Linked DNA regions of Homo sapiens: region 1 is linked to region 2. Evidence: fine-mapped expression QTL. Tissue or cell type: monocytes after Pam3CSK4. Region 2 holds a variant in brackets; the other region holds the start of a gene. All regions are shown on one strand. Distances are between the middles of the regions.

The links. PIP is the estimated chance that this variant, and not a neighbour inherited with it, causes the effect.
Region 1: it holds the start of DNAJC6, and the variant in region 2 is fine-mapped to the expression of DNAJC6 in monocytes after Pam3CSK4 (Quach 2016, PIP 0.90).

Annotation. Positions count from the first base shown.
Region 1 is chr1:65,306,312-65,314,416 of GRCh38, reverse strand. DNAJC6 (DnaJ heat shock protein family (Hsp40) member C6) reads right to left here and starts at 4,874. Exons shown (of 19, transcript NM_001256864.2): 1 at 4,479-4,874. The coding sequence starts at 4,671. It overlaps DNAJC6-AS1 (DNAJC6 antisense RNA 1), which reads left to right and starts at 5,183. Exons shown (of 3, transcript XR_007066155.1): 1 at 5,183-5,922; 2 at 7,832-7,984. It overlaps LOC112268227 (a long non-coding RNA gene), which reads right to left and starts at 3,173. Exons shown (of 2, transcript XR_002958317.2): 1 at 1-3,173.
Region 2 is chr1:65,416,864-65,424,968 of GRCh38, reverse strand. It overlaps LEPR (leptin receptor), which reads right to left and starts at 4,301. Exons shown (of 20, transcript NM_002303.6): 1 at 4,229-4,301. LEPROT (leptin receptor overlapping transcript) reads right to left here and starts at 4,301. Exons shown (of 4, transcript NM_017526.5): 1 at 4,229-4,301. The coding sequence starts at 4,244. RefSeq lists enhancers at 3,798-3,847, 3,921-4,454, 4,455-4,987 and silencers at 4,218-4,717, 4,738-4,807. The variant G/C (reference allele first, on the strand shown) is at 3,144.

The DNA of each region.
Region 1 (8,105 bases), 110 kb after region 2:
GGATTATTAGTACATATATGTTTATTATACTTCCATGAAGTATACAATTATCCAAACACGTATCTCATAATGTTGAAACCTGGTTCAAAATGTGGATGCTGTGTTTAAACACTAACTAAAATAGAATTTGTTAAAGGTAATTTTTGTTTCCAACCAGACTCACACTACATGGTATTTTAGCATTGTTCATTATCCTTATTCTTTTTTTTTAATATATACAATATTTTGTTTATTTATATATGTGAATTTCTATATATTTAAATATATAGAACAAAGCCTAAAAAGTGAGAATCAAAAGAGAAATCCTTACCTATCATTATACTTATTCTTTAAAAAGTATTAATATCTGTTTCCAGATTTTAATTGGACTACTCTTTTTCAGTTTGTCATTATGAACTTGGTAAATTAAGCCCAATATTGGAACACTTTAGCAGCTCAATATTGAAAGTTCTACTTTTGTGGTTCTACTTTCCCTGAAAAGTGGGGTGCACACAAGAGAAATAGGGGGTTTTCGGCATTGGGATAGTGCAGTGCCTTTGAGATATGACAGGATGACCTTTAAATGACAACCTTTTCTAGAGAATAATTTGAATGAAGAGAAAGTGAGCCAGGGAAGGCAGAGAGCTCTGGAAGTCACATCTGGCTAGGAGACTGCTCTGGTATCTACCACTTGAGAGGCTGTTGACTTAGAAAGCCATTACATTCCTCTGAACATGTACCCCTCTTTTATCTAAAAACAGGGGGGAAATCAAAGTAGATAAAAATGTTTCCATTTCAACAATCAGTTGATATTGTGTCTACCCAAAAGTTTAGTTCAATGGGGAAAAACTCAAACCTTTGAGTCAGAAGACCTAAGTCTGGCTGTCATTATCTATTCTACCTTTGATAGGTCTCCTACCACCTCTGAGAATAAGTTTCTTCATATGATAAATTGAAAGGGCAAGATACAAAGTAAAGAAAAACTGCAAATGTATTTTTATATTGTTTTCAGCCTCAACTAAAGCTCTGTGGTAAGAACAGCTCTTATGATTCCACTTTTATAAATGGGAACAGGCCAAGCATGGTGGTTCATGTCTGTAATCCGAGCACTTTGGGAGGGAGGCCGAGGTGGTCAGATCGCTTGAGCCCAGGAGTTTGAGACCAGCCTGGGCAACATGGCAAAAAACCCCATCTCTACAAAGAAAAAAAAAAAAAAAATTAGCCAGGCATGGTGGTTCATACCTGTAGTCCCAGCTACTCAAGAGGCTGAGGCAGGAGGGTCATTTGAGCCCAGGAGGTCCAGACTGCAGTGAGCCATGATCACACCACTGCACTCCAGCCTGGGCAATGGAGCAAGACCCTGTAATCACAGCACTTTGGGATGTCAAGGCGGGCAGATCACTTGAGACCAGGAGTCCGAGACCAGCCTGGCCAACATGGCAAGAGCCCGTCTCTACTAAAAATACAAAAATTAGCCGGGTGTGGTGGTGCACGCCTGTAATCCCAGCTACTTGAGGGGCTGAAACACAAGAATTGTCTGAACCCGGGAGGTGGAGGTTGCAATGAGCTGAGATCGCACCACTGCACTCCAGCCTGGGTGACAGAGCTATCTGTCTAGAAAAGAAAAGAAAAAGGTTACTAGGTTTTTCAGCGAGTAACAATAATGCAGAGGTTTGATCCCAAGTCTCCAAGCACAGACACATGCTGCTTCCCCAACCTATTTAATAAAATTCTGGGGAAATGAAATAAGAGAATTGTCCAAGTGTTCTATTATAAACAGTCTTACAAGTTTAAGGTATTATTAAGACTAAGCTTTAAATCATGTAGCGAGATGTCAACATATTTTTTCCACTCATTAATATTTCTATCAGAGCAAAAGTCCCATAAACCACTGATCCTATCCAGCATGTCACAGTACAATCAGTTGAATAAATGGGCAGATTACTGCCACTTTAGAAATGATCCATGAACTTAATTAGATATACTAAACAAATGGATATATTTACACTGCACAGGCCACACTTTGAGGATCTTAGAAGAAAGAACTATAATTAGGCAAGACATATAGTTGTACTAGTAAAAGAATCCTACTCTCAGAGTCCAATCCTTCATTCAAACCAAACAAATCATTCTCAGTTGAAAATATGCATCAAAATCATTGTAAGATACCCTGTACTTCTACAACAAAGCCACAATATTCCCCTAATAAAATATAGGAGTGAATGATGGATAAGGGGAGGAGAAAAGGAATCCCTGCAGCCTCTTCACACAACACCACTTTGATCAAGTTTAAGAATCAACTCCTGGCAATAGCACTTTAGAGATAACAATATTCTTAATGAAACACTTTCCCATCACAACAGATTATTAAAGCAATCCATTATTCTTCTCTCCACCTATTAAAAAAGTCTGATTTAGTGAAAAAGACAATCCTCAAAAATCCAGGACTTACCATAGGCTGCTCTGTGTTATAGTTACTGCCCCCACTGAGAGTCCCCTAGAGGCCAGAAGGATCTCATTCACTACTGTGTTCCCTCACAGTGCTTGGCACATAGCTGGGCTCAGAAAATGTATGTTGAACTTATTCTACAATGTAACATATTTCAAAAACCAATTTCAACTCTTAAAATAATAATCCCTATGAAAAAGGAAAACATATGTATTTCATATTTCTTTCATTTTCCTGAAGTGAGGCTCCTTCACACTCATTTGGAATATGTTTGTTTTCATTTCAATTGTTTACATGCTCACTACATGTAAACATTATTATGGTGGCATCATTCAGAGAACATGAATCTTTTTAAGATTTAAAGGAGATTACATCCAGTCAAAAGATGGATTACACTTTGATATATCACAGATTTGAAAAAACATACATTGAATAACCACATACAACATCAATAAAAAAGTCCTGCCTGGGCGCGGTGGCTCATGCCTGTAATCCCAGCACTTTGGGAGGCCGAGGCAGGCAGATCACCTGAGGTCAGGAGTTCAAGACCAGCCCGGCCAACATGGCAAAACCCCGTCTCTACTAAAAGTACAAAAATTAGCCGGGCATGGTGACAGGTGCCTGTAATCCCAGCTACTCAGGAGGCTGAGGCAGGAGAATCGCTTGAACCCGGGAAACGGAGTTTGCAGTCCGCCGAGTTCGCATCCCTGCACTCCAGCCCGGGCAACAGAGTGAGACTCCGCCTCAAAAAAAAAAAAAAAAAAAAAAAAAAACAGTCCTGAAACCATCAATCCCTTGGGGATCATTTTAGTTTTATTTAAAATGGTCTAAGAGAATGTCCCATCAATATCTTGGTTAACTTCAATAAGAGCTTCAATGAGTAGAATTTGTTTTCAGCCCAGGACATTTGAGCATCTGTGGACAATATTTCATCCCACTTTGGGACAAGGAAAATAGAAAATAATAGCCCAAGGACAGCCATTACACAATTAAAATAAACAAGCATTTGTTTGCAAAGCAGGGCATTTAAATTCAGTTTGATTTCATTACTGTTCAAACGACCCCATATGAATCTTTCCTCTGGAATCCTCAGTTGTCCAGTATTAAAGTTACCAGTGTAGAACCAACCACTGAGGACTTCAATTATAAATATCTCTGTAAACAATTCTCCGAACCTGGTTCCCTGCAGAAGTAAGCAAATAGCTATAATAATACTCCTAGTCCAACATGGATATATTAAATGACTGTTTTGCTATTGAAATCGCAAATGCCAACAGCAGTTCCAAGAGAGGACTCTAACTTGCCAAACCTTTTATAAAAGACAGTTGCAAGCCCCGATACAAAGTTTAGAGGAATTTCCTTGTCCCTACATGTAAAGGTTTATGAAATCTGTACACTCAAGCAAAAGGACAAACAAGATCAAAGCCAACACATGAAATAAATTTCATTGTGCAAACAGTAAAAGCTGTGTAAAAGAGCTCTAGATCCCAGGTTAAAAACTGCAGGAGAAAGGTAACATTAACCCTAGCAGACGGCTGAGTTAAGATGTGGCAGAGCTTTACAGAATTGCAAATAGCATCAGCATTGCAAGAATAACAATTGGAATAAATACCGTCTGCATGCTGCAAAAACAATCAACGCACATGCTCCTTCACCTCTCCCCCTCATCCAGCTGGGCAGTGAAAGCAGCTGCCTCTCCCAGCCCTCCTCCCAAGCCGTTCTTCGCCCCACCCGCTCCCCTCTCTTCTCCACCCCTCCCCTCCTCCTTCCCTCCCCCTCCCCGCCCCCAGCTGCCGTATTCAGCAGTCTAGAGAGATTAGGAGGAGCTCGCTACAGTCTCTGGGCCTCAGGACTGATCTAACGTTTCGTAGCTCCCTGGATGAGAGAAATTAGAGACTCGACACCCAGGTGGTATTAGAAGCCTTCGCCTCCAGCCCGGCTCTCTCGCAAACCGGGGCTGGGGGACCACGGGGGGGCCTCGGGCCGGGCGACTGGGAGGCTCCGGAGGCCGCGCGGGGCTCAGCGCTGCACTCCCCTCGGGCAGCGCTACCTGAGCTGTCCATGGTGCTGGCGCGGTCCGGAGGCTGTCGGGCGGGACTCCGCGCCGCTGCCCCGGCGTTCACTCTCTGCTTGCCGCCAACCCCGCCGCTTCCCGCACTTAAGTCCCCGTTACTGTCCACCAGCTGCAAAGATTCATAACCATCGTTGCTGGTCTTTTTCCGGTAGCTCCCGAGGAGGCTCATGGGCAAGCCCGGAGAAAAGAGAAAATAATCAACCTGGGAAGCGAAAAGGGAGATGGAAGGTGGAAAGGGCTGAAGAAGGAATTAAAAAAAAAAAAAAATTAAGTGCCCGACATGACGCAAAGAGGAGGGAAAAGAAGGAGCGGCCACCGGAGAGAAGCTTCGCCGGGCGAGGCGAAGCCGCCGCCCTGGGCTGAGCTCGGCTCGGGGCGCCGGGAGGAGGGAGGGAGGGAAGGAGACGCGGCCGGGCGGGGGCGCGCGTCCTCTGGGCCAACGCCGCGGAGCCGCCCGGCCCTGCCGAGCTCCGGGCCCCAGGCCAGCACCTCCTGGCTGAGGAGTGCCCGGAAGCAATCCTATAGGTGTCGCCGCGTCGCCCCGCCGCGCAGCAGGGCAGCGCCAAAGCCGCTGGCCCGCGGGGAGGGAAGGAAAGGGAGGTAGGAAGGGAGGGGAGGTTCGTGAGGAGGGGGGTTGAAGGGAAACGGGGCGGGGTGGTCGGGGGAGGGGACTACTACGACGTGGGTTGGGAGGGTGTGTTCGCACGCGTGTGACAGAGAAGAAAGGGGCGAGGTATCTCGGCCTGCGAAGCTTTGAGGACCAGGGGTCTTGTGGTAAAATCCAGACACACCCATTTCATGCAACTTAGCCTATTTTCACCGGAAGATTCCGCCAAAGCCACCAGGACGGTAACCGTCCTAGAGAACTGACTTGTAACTCAATTCAACAGAAAAAGAATGCATGTTAAGTGCCAGAATATATCTATGCTAGGATATAAAGGAAGAGCAATATTTTGCACATTCTCCAGAATAGGGATGATCCCTAAGGGAGATATCAAAGAGTTGGGTATTCTAATACTAGGAGGCAGCGTCCGTTCTGCCTAGAGAGCAGATGTGACTGTTTAGAACTCTTTGTTGAGCGAATAAACTGGGGAGAAGGGCAAGGTTAAGTCCGACGCATTTTCAGATCCGCCACCATTTACCTTAGGACCTGGAGAAAAGACTGTTTCAGTTAGCTAGCTTGAAGGCCTGCTTGGGAAGCAAGATAGACAAGGATTTTTTTTCCCCATCCTCTAGCCTCACGCCTTATTTTTCTTTCACAATTCTGGCCAAAGAAAGCAGTAACTCATAATCAGAAGAGAATTTATCATGAAGTTAATTAAGCTGTGTACCTAATTTTGTATCTGTCATCGTGTATTCTTAAAAGAAGACTCCGACATTGTATAAGTTCTGGATCTGAACAAAACCTGGATAAACTCTGGTAAGTCTTAAAATGTAATTATCGAATGTTTATTTTCACCTAAAATAATAAGATTTCAGAAGGATTGCTCATTCTCATCATCTTAGGTCAAGATCAAGTAAGTCTTGGTTAAAAATTATCATTTTCTCTACTAAAACTTGGAGGGACTAAGTGAGGCGCCCGTCAAGAGTCATTTGACAGAGTTTCCTCACCAAAACAGGAAAAAAGTACGTGCATGTAAAATGTACTTGAGCCCATACACAAAGCCAGCTTTGCTTTCTTCTCATCTTACATGGTTTTCTCTTGCTGTCCTTATATCAATCACCTAAGGACACAAAATCAAACAATAGCATCTAAGAGACTTCAGTCCAGATGATTTGGGTCTCAGAAAGTTTCCGGGAAGCTCTAGCTCTACACAGTTCTACATAAAATAAATTGGACTAAGAGACATTTTCCTGTACAAGGATCACCCAAACACAGATTCTTGTAGGAAGAGCATCAACCAGAAGAAGTCCAAAGAAATGTTTTCTAAATCCTTCCAGTCCTTCTGGGGAAACCTAAACTTCCTGGCCAGTTGCTTTCCCAACTGCATTCTTTGATGAGGTATGGTGTGACCTGAATTGCAAATCAGAGTTAATGCTCATTTATAACAAGATCAAACAATCTGAATGGTGGCAGGAAAAACTGCAATAAAAATTTTAAAACAAATTTTTATACTTTCAATTTTCCAAATCTGTCAGATTGAATTATTTTAGTTACTTGACTAAAGTAATAATTCTGTGAAGTCTAGTAAATCTTTTCCCATAACATCTTAAATAATCTTTCTCTGTACTTTTTCTTTTAATTCATTACAGACACACAGGGACAGTAAATACCTAGTGTTCATCATGTGCCCTGACAAATGCTGGACTATAATCATTGGATTAATAGAATTTAGAACCAGCCTCAGTGACAGACTGAGACCCTGTCTCAAAAAATAAATAAATAAATACAGGATCATTTTTGAAAAGTGAAAATTATTATTTTCAAAAAGAGCACTTTCAGTTATTTTTGCTCAACTTGCAGACATATTGCTGAAAGAAATTATAGATGAGACATATGCCTTTGTATTTTTCAATATCTATCTCTGGAGTTTGCAAGTGTAAAGAAAAATCTGAATGGGCTATAAGAATTTTATCTTTATACTTAATATAAATAAAGTCAATCAGGATAACTATTAATAATCCTATAAAATTGAAGATATAAGAAGCATATTAAGGCAGGAAAATACAATAACTAGGTTAATTTACAACAGCCTAAAAACTAGGGCTTGGGCCTAAATTTGGATATGCACCAATTTCAACATTAAAATTTTCTTTACTGTGCTAAAGATCAAATTCATATACTTATCAATGAATATCTCACTGTTCTACTCTATAAAACAAGCATAATATGAGTACCATCATTATATAGAAGAATTAGATTAGTACCTAACATATATATATATATATATATATAGAGAGAGAGAGAGAGAGAGAGAGAGAGAGAGAGAGAGAGAGAGAGAAACAGATTGAGAGAGAGAGTAGTACTTAACAATTGTTCTCTATTACCATTATTGGTCTGTCTTGGGTGCAGCTTTAAGCTCAGCGCCTGGCAGTCTTAGTTTTTCAAATGGGAAAAGCTCAATAAAGGCTAAATATTATTTTTTCCAGGGATATCCTAATGGAAAATTGTCTTTGTAACTTTGAATGAGAATTTGGGCTTAAGGGAGGTGGCACTGGTCAAACACAAGGTGAACATTTACAGCCTAACTCTTGGTTTTCCAAACTCAAGACTACTTCATAACTTATCTCAAAAATACTACATCATACATGAGACAACGGCAAAGGATAAGATGCCCTCTTCTGGGGACAGCAATCATTCCCTTTGTCTTTTCTCTTGCTGCCTTCAGGTGCTTTATTAACTTGATGAAGATTAGTGACACTGAGGAATACTGAGGAACCAGGCTCTATTCCACCCCATCCCCTTCATACACACCTCATTCCAAATGCTATCCTGTCACAGCAGATGCCACATCACTTTTGGGGTGGGCTAAGAGATCAAGGTATGTATGCCATGACCTATGTAGGATTTTGATCTGTGATTTTCATTTCCAGAGAATATAATACATTGATTAAAATTGAAGTTGCCAGCCAGGTGTGGTGGCTCACACCTGTGGTCCTGGC
Region 2 (8,105 bases):
GACTGCATTATGTGTGTCCCTTTCAAATTCACATGTTGAAACCTTCCCGGCTCCATCCCTCTCACCGTGAGATGCTATCAGGAGGTGGACCTTTGGGAGATAATTAGGTTCAGATGAGGTCATGAGGGTGGGGTCTCCACGATGGGATGAGTGCCCTTATAAGAAGAGAGAAAGTAGAGCACACACTCTCTCTGTGTTTCTCTCCCTCTGTTCTCCAATGTGAGAGCAGAAAGCAGGCCTGCAAACCAGGAAGCTGGCTCTCACCAGACACCAGATCTGACTGCACCACAATTTTGGACTTCCCAGTCTTCAGAACTGTGGAAACTAAATGTTTGTTGTTTAAGCCACCCAGTCTAAAATATATTTCTTATAGTAGCCCAAACTGATTAAGACAATGACCCATGTCTGCCACCTTGAAATCATAAAGTATACAAAGGTCTCAAGTAATTCCAGTACCTAACCCCTATCCAATGGATGAATTCCCTCTGTATTTGTCACCAGAGGGCAGCCAGTTGGTCCACATAACTCCAGTGAAGGAAAACTCACTACCTCCCAAGGCAAGTCATTTAATTCCAACAGCTTCTAAATGTTGAAAGCCCTCCTTCTTTAAATTATATCCAGAACTGCCTCCCTGTAATATATACCTTTGATCATTTTGCCTCCCCAAACCACAGTACTGCAAGTATTTGAAGATTGTTTTCATGTCTTTGTAGGAAACAATTCCCAACTAGTGTGCACTGAATAAAATATGTATTCCCTGTATCTATTGGACACTAGTCTCTGCGGGAGTAGGAACGTATTTGCCCTTGTTGTGCTGCTGAGTGAGAAACAGAGTATCAAGGTTGTTACAAAATCTTGAGCTCTGAGTCACAAACATGAGTCAAATCTTAACTCTGCCACCATCTGGTCTTATGACTTTGGGTAGAAGCTAATCCTCTGAACCTGATTTCTCACCTGTAAAATGGAAATAATGGTGCCACCTTATTGAGCTTATGGGAATTAAATGAGATAATCTATGTAAAGTGCTTGGCAAAAGGAGGTAGCCAAATAAATGCTGACTGACTCAGGTATCTACTCATTTTAGCAATGTTCTTTGATAAAGGTAGAAATCAAAAGCATAGGAGACTATCTTATCCAAATTTTCTTCTGAAAAAAGTCCATAATACTCATAATTAGTATTAAACTAATTAATTAAGCCAATGAACATTTTTGATTGCTTCCTTTTACTTGAGAGAAGATTTAGAGAGACTCTTTAATAGGAAGGTGCCAAAGTGCTTTTTAAAAAACATCTGAAAGTATACACATGTTAAGGGACAAAGAAACACTGTCAATTTTAACATATCTTTTTACATTTCCACTCTTTAATGGAAAATGCCCATGTGTGGATGGAAAGCAAATACCACATACTATTTCATTCAGATGATCTTTTCCCAGCAGGCTTTGCTCCTCTCCTCTGTGCCTGACCATCGGCAGTACCCCCTCCTCCATGAGGCCTGTCAAAGCTAGGTACTGCAGACCTCTTCCTTCTGTTCTGATACCAGTTTCTCAACGTTCACAACCATCTTTCTGTTTGATTCTTTTTGGTCTTTTTTTTCCTCTTTTTTCAGGAATCACATCCTCTGAATCTCTTAAAGTTGGAGTTGACCAAAAATCCAACCCCATCTCTCTTTTCACTCCACGCACTCCTGCTGAAAACTTATGTTCAACCCAAAGCTCCTACTACCACAAGGGCCCGGCCGCAACTGATGCTCCAGCCCAGAGTAGGTCCTAAAGAACTAGGCCTGTACTTCCACCTCCAGTCTGGACTTCTCTGCCTTGACCGCCAACAAGAACCTCAAATTCAACATGTGTAACACGTGTAAAACCAAACCACTATCCCTACACTTTAAAGGTCCTATCTTAGAGGACTGACACCATGATTGCATTCCACCTTCCAATGAATCAGTAGGTCAAGGTGACTCAATCTCCCAGACTTCTTAAACTCTCTGCTACAGCCCTGGTGCAGGCCCTTAACCTCTTATTCCTGCCTCTGTGACTCTTCCAATCCATCCTCTACACAGCAGACAGTGATCTTTCAACTATATATATCACCGCTGCCATCCCTTTGCGGTTGCTTCCACAGCCTACAAGTTGTTCTGGCACGGAGGCTCACCATCGCCTGACTCACTCCTAACTGCCTGTCCAGCCAGCTTCAACCCTCACCACTAAGTTCTGGTCTTACTAATGTAGCTTAAGTACCTGAAGAGAAGAAGGCATGTTGTTTCATAAGCCCTGCGCCATGTCACGTGCTGTCCTCCCCACTTGGGATATACTCCACCTTCACTCCATGCCTTGCCAAGGGAAGCCACATTGATCCCTTCAGATTCAGTTCAAGCATCGCCTCTTCTGTGAAAACAGTCCTTTCTCTGGAGCAGGGGAATCAATCCCACCTGCATCAGCTTCCTAGGGCTGCCGTTACAAAGTACCACAAACTGGATGGCTGAGAACAACAGAAATTTATCTTCTGACAGTTCTGGAGGCTGGACTTCTGAAATCAAGGTGTCAGCAGCGCCACCACACTCCCTCTGAAGGCTGTAGGGAAGCACCCTTCCTTGCCTCTTCCTAACACTCAGTGGTTGCCAGCATGGTTGCCAACAATCTTTGGTGCTCCTGACTTTGTAGCTGCATCACTCCAATTTCTGTCTCCGTCTTCCCATGGTATTCTCCCTGTATGTCTCTATGTCTAAATTCCCCTCTTCTTATAAGGACACCAGTCATTGGATTAGGGCCCACCTTAAACCAGTTATCATTTTAATTTGATTATATCTGCAAAGATACTACTTCCAAATAAGATCACATTCACAGGTACCAGGGAATTAGAGCTTGAACACATCTTTTTGGAGGACAAAATCCAACCCACCATCTGTTCTCCCACCGCATCTGAGCCCAACATAAACACTGACATAGTAATATAATTATTTCCAGCTCTGTCACCCACCAATAACTTCTCATTTATCTTTGTATCCTAAGTCTCTGGCATACAGTAGTTCCTCAATAAAAGTTGAACAATCTGTAAAATGCTTCCTTCCCTTAGTCCGTTTCCATTTCAGACTTCCTTTTTTTTCACTACATCACAATTTTCTAACACATTCACACATAAACGT[G/C]ATCATGATTTGGTAGTTTCTGATCATGTGTAGTACTGAGACACTACTTTTCATCTGTTTTCGGCATTGGCTTCAAATGGATATATAACACAGTCGACACTCTCCAAGTAAACCATGTTTACTAAACTGATATTAAGTATAAAAGTCAGCCAGAAATAACGATAAAATGTCTGCTGCTAACAGCTCACATACTCGGATAAATTCATAGTGAACAGAGGCGTACTCGTATATATACTATCTACATGTTTATAGCAGATGTTAACTGGGGATATCTTTGGGTGCAAATTTCAAGGATGATATAAAAGCCAATATAAAAACAAGTCATGCTACTCTATTCGACAGATTAGAAATGGAATGTTTTCCTACCAAAATACAGGAAGCCTTGCAAAAAACCTTTTCCGTCTCGCATTGCTCTGAAGCCATACAGATAAGGGACGCGGTGTTTTTACCAACTGCCCCATGCAAAAAACACATACTACACACACACTGGTTTCTTCTCTGTCCATAAACAGAGAAAACACCGAAGAAAGCAGTATTAAAATTACACGTAATCTACTCTCCACGACTGCGAGAAACACCGTCTTTCTGGGTGCTTTCCATTGACACCCGCCCGCGGTCAACTCTGCCCAGTTGGAAAAATCATTAGGAAAAAGAGGATTAAGTTTCCCAATGCTAAGAACGCTGGAGACAAAGGGTCCTTTGTGGCAAATAGGAAACTGCGGAGGGGCAGAAAACCAGAAGAAAGGCGTTAGGGTGGCGTCAAGAAGTGGAAACCTTGTTTAAAAACTCAGGAGAGGTGGAGGGCGCCGCTCTCGCCGAGGGCTCAGGCTGGGGAGGGGTCTGGTGCCGCCACTGGAGAGCAGGAAGGCCAGCGGCCTTGCAAAAAGGGCCAAGGCTCCCCCGAAACGCCGCTCCACCCACACCCCAAGGGACGAAGGGAGCGGTCGATCGCCTCCCGAACCGGAGAGGCGGGAAGGGTGGTGAGGCCGTTCCCCAACGGCGCGCGGAAGGCGCAGCCCCAGGCTTGACCGGAACGGAGGTGGCAACCCCACCACACGACAAGCGAGCCGGGGACCGCGATGTACCTTTAACGCCCGCCATGTCTCCCGAACTGGGGCCGCGGCTGCTTCCGGCTTCCTGCCACGGCCCGGGCAGCCTGCCCAAGCCAGACCGGGAGTCGCCCCGCGGATCCCGAGCCCGCCCCGGCCACGCAGAGCCCCGCCCCCGCCGGTGCAGAACTCCGACCTTAGCTCGCAAACGCGGCGCCTGCTGCTCCAGACCCCGCCCCCACCACTCACAACCCCGCCCCCGCCGGTGCAGAACCCCGCCCCCAGCTCGCAGAGGCCGCGCCTGATAGTTCAGACCCGGCCTCGCTACTCAGAGCCCCGCCCCTGACAGTACAGAGCTCCTCCCCTACCTCGCGGAGGCAGCGCCTGCGGCTCCAGACCTCGCTACCGCTACTCGAAGCCCCGCCCCAGACAATGCAGAGCTCCTCCCCTAGCTCGCGGAGGCCTCCCCTGCTGGTCCCGCCCCAGCCCTCACCGGCCCAGAATTCCGCCCCCAACTCTCAGAGGCCGTCCCTGCTGGTCCCGACCCCGCCCCCGCCACCCAGAACTCCGCTCCTGCCAGTCTAGAACTCCGCCCCCAGCTCGCAGAGTCCATCTCCAGCCCTAAGGTCCCACCTGGTCCCACAGAGCTTTCCCAGAGTAACCCCAACCCAGTGCCCTGGGCCCTCCTCCTAGATCCTGAGCCCTCCAAGTAATCCTCAAGCCCGTTCAATGTGGGTTGGGACCTTGGCTCCGCCCCGACCGCGGGCCCAGAGTCTCTCCCCGGCCTCTCAGAACGCAGTGCACGCAGCGGGGGATCCTCCCTGAGCCTTCCTGAGAACGGAGATGTAGAAAGTGGGGAGAGGCAGGAGAGGGAAGGAGGGGAAAAGTTGCAATCGATGGGAGAGGGACACCGACTCACTAACCAGTGTTATGTTCCCTGAGCTCCCAAGTGCGTGCTAGTGTGCGAGTGTGTGCCTGTCTGCCTTCACATGACTGTGGCAGAGGAGAGGCGGGGTACCAGAGGACAGGCCCCTTAGGAAACACTCCTCATTAAGAACTTGATATTTGCATAGGTTTGCTTTGCTTAATAGCAACGCTTTACTGAAACTAGCGGGGTTTTTCTTTACTCCCTGGTTTATTTATAGAGACGAAGACCATATAAGCTTTTGTGTCCGAAGCTTTCATGAACCTTAAAAAAAAAAATAAAAAAAAAAAGCTATTATTTTTGTGCCTTGGGGCCTCAAAGTTTGCAGGTAACCAAGGCCAGTTTTTAGATCTCTGAGAGCCATTGTGTACTTATCTTACAGGAATGGAGAGTTCTGTTTTGGCAAAAGCAATCTAGAAGATCATTGAAACAGTCTGGTCCAAATGCTTCAACTTACATTTAAGGAAAGAGGTGCAGAAAGGATAGGACTTGCCTGTCACACAGCTCTTTGGAGGAGGTTGGATTCTGGGCCACTTCCCCTCATTCTAGCTGAGATCCACTCTACCTGATGGTGCCGTCCCTCTTCTCTTGCTTTTTCTCCGTTTTCAAAAGGACTGAAAGACAAAGGAATCTGTGGAAACCTAGCTTCCCCTGGCTACCTGAGAAGTATAAATTCTCACCACCATCATGTTTCATGATCCTTGCTCAGTTTACTTTTTCAAAATTGCACATTGAGCATGTTACTGTTTCAAGAAATGTCTATTTGTTGATTCAGTGGAGTATTTTTCTAGCTGTCAGTTTATTTTTCTAGCTCCTCTCATTTCTCCTCATAGACGGATGGCACACTCACTGAAAACAGCATTGTAATACCTGACTCACTGCTGATGCTTGGAGATCCAATACTACAGTACAGCACTTTTTACTTTGGAGCCTTCAATCTACTCAAGAGCATTGGCAGTGTATGCCACTTTGGTTTAAGGATTATTTTGAGCTGAAGGCAATTAGGAAGAAGCAAATAGGTACACGGTACTAGAAAAGCACTCTGCCCTCCCTCTATTTGCCAAAAAGCAGGATATAAGTTTACGAAGGTGTACCTCCTTCCTGCTCTACCAGGAAAGACAAAGATTAATCACCAGAGACAATTTTAGACCCCTGTCAGCCTGGAGACAACACAAGAAAAATCTACATGATAAACCTTAGTATTTGGCCTTCATCTGCAACTAGTCTCCCATATATTTGTTTTCCGACAATTTGCTGCCCCTAGAGACTCAAGATCCTTTATCTTGTCATTTCTTTAAAAATTTATTGTTCCTTGGCTAATATGCTGTATAAACCCAAGTTCTAACCAAATCTTTGAGTTGCTTATCTCTGAGTATTCCCATGTTACCTATATGAACAACGCACGTGTTGATAAACTTGCTTTACTTTTGTTCATCTGTCTTTGGCCAGTCTAATGCACAAGGACCCAGCCGGAGAACCTAAGATAGGTAGAGAAAAAGATTCTTCCTCCCCTACAAGAGCTTGTTTCCCTATCATATTATTTCTAATACCTATTAGAGCACTCAAGGGAACCTGCGTATCAGACAAGCCCTGGAAGTCTGTGGTTTTTAGCTTTCTTCGTGTAGTGCTAAGCTACTCTCATGGGGAAGATATTCTATGGGGTTAAATTTCCCTCATTCCCCCTTCCATTTCCAACCACCCATTCTGTCTCCAGAGAGCCTAAATAGGGTTTGCGGGAGCCTTCCACATCAGCCTGACTCCAGTCCCACAGAAGATAAGTGATTTTAGAGAAAACTGACAACACATCAGAAGCAGAGTTTGGTTTGAGCACCCTAGGCTCAGGAGTAAGATATTGGAAGGTGGTATGAAAGAAAAAGTTGAGGTGTTTGCCCCAGGGTAATGTCTGGAATTTAAAAAATGCTGGGACAGTGTTTGTCTTGAACAAGTTTTCTGCCCACGCCAGCTGTCCTTTCCAGGTTACCAATCACCTTAAAGAGAAAGTTAGCTATTTTGCCATAGGCTTTAACCATCTGAAAAAAATCTGCTTTTCTTTTGCCTGATGTTGCACTGAAAAAAACTGTTCTTCTACTTACTCCTTCCACATTTTCTCAAAAATAAGAGTCATCAAAAACAGAAAGTAAAACCCTAAAAACCAAATCCTTATCCCCAACTTGCCATTGATATGTTACTTGTAAGATCTGTGACCTCTGTCATGCTGCCTAGGACTACAGTGGACTTACTGGGATGAATTTTAATATTCTCTCCTTGCATTCAATAGTCTCGCATGATAAGCTAGGTTTTATTGCCTCTATCTTACAGATAGGAAAACAAGCTCCCAGTAACCAGTGAATAGGGAAGCTGAGATCAAGTCCCAAACTGTTCAGCTCTAAAGTCAGATGGTCAGCACTTGTACTATTCCCCACAGTAGATCTTATGCACCAAGAAGCAAGAATTCTTGTAGTAATTAGAAATAACAGTAACCTCTTATGCTTCACAGGGCATCAAATCCATTCACTGTCTTAATTTTCTCCAGCATATCTATTAGCATCTTGCATACAGTATACACAAAATGTTGGCTGAATTAACAAATATTAATAAGTTTACCATACACAGTATCATCTCTCCCTATCCTCAGAAAAAAAAAAATATATAGCCTCAAGCTCCAGCTCTGGGTAAATTTCTCCATGCTTTAGCTTCCTGAGGTAAGATTTACAAAAACCTGTCTCAGAATCTTTGGGGGAATTAAGTGAGAAAAAAATATATATAAAACATATATATATATATATGGTAACACCTAGGGCAGTGCACACAAGATAAATGCCAGGATGTTATATCTACACTGGGGTAGGCTTGCAAGTCAGTGCATAAGTTAAATGCAAGAATGATGCAACACTAATTGAAATCCGTAAATGTTGGTTTTCCTTCCTAATGCTCAATCACTACTTCTTTTTACATAGCTATTCCCTTTACAGAAACTACAATGCAAAC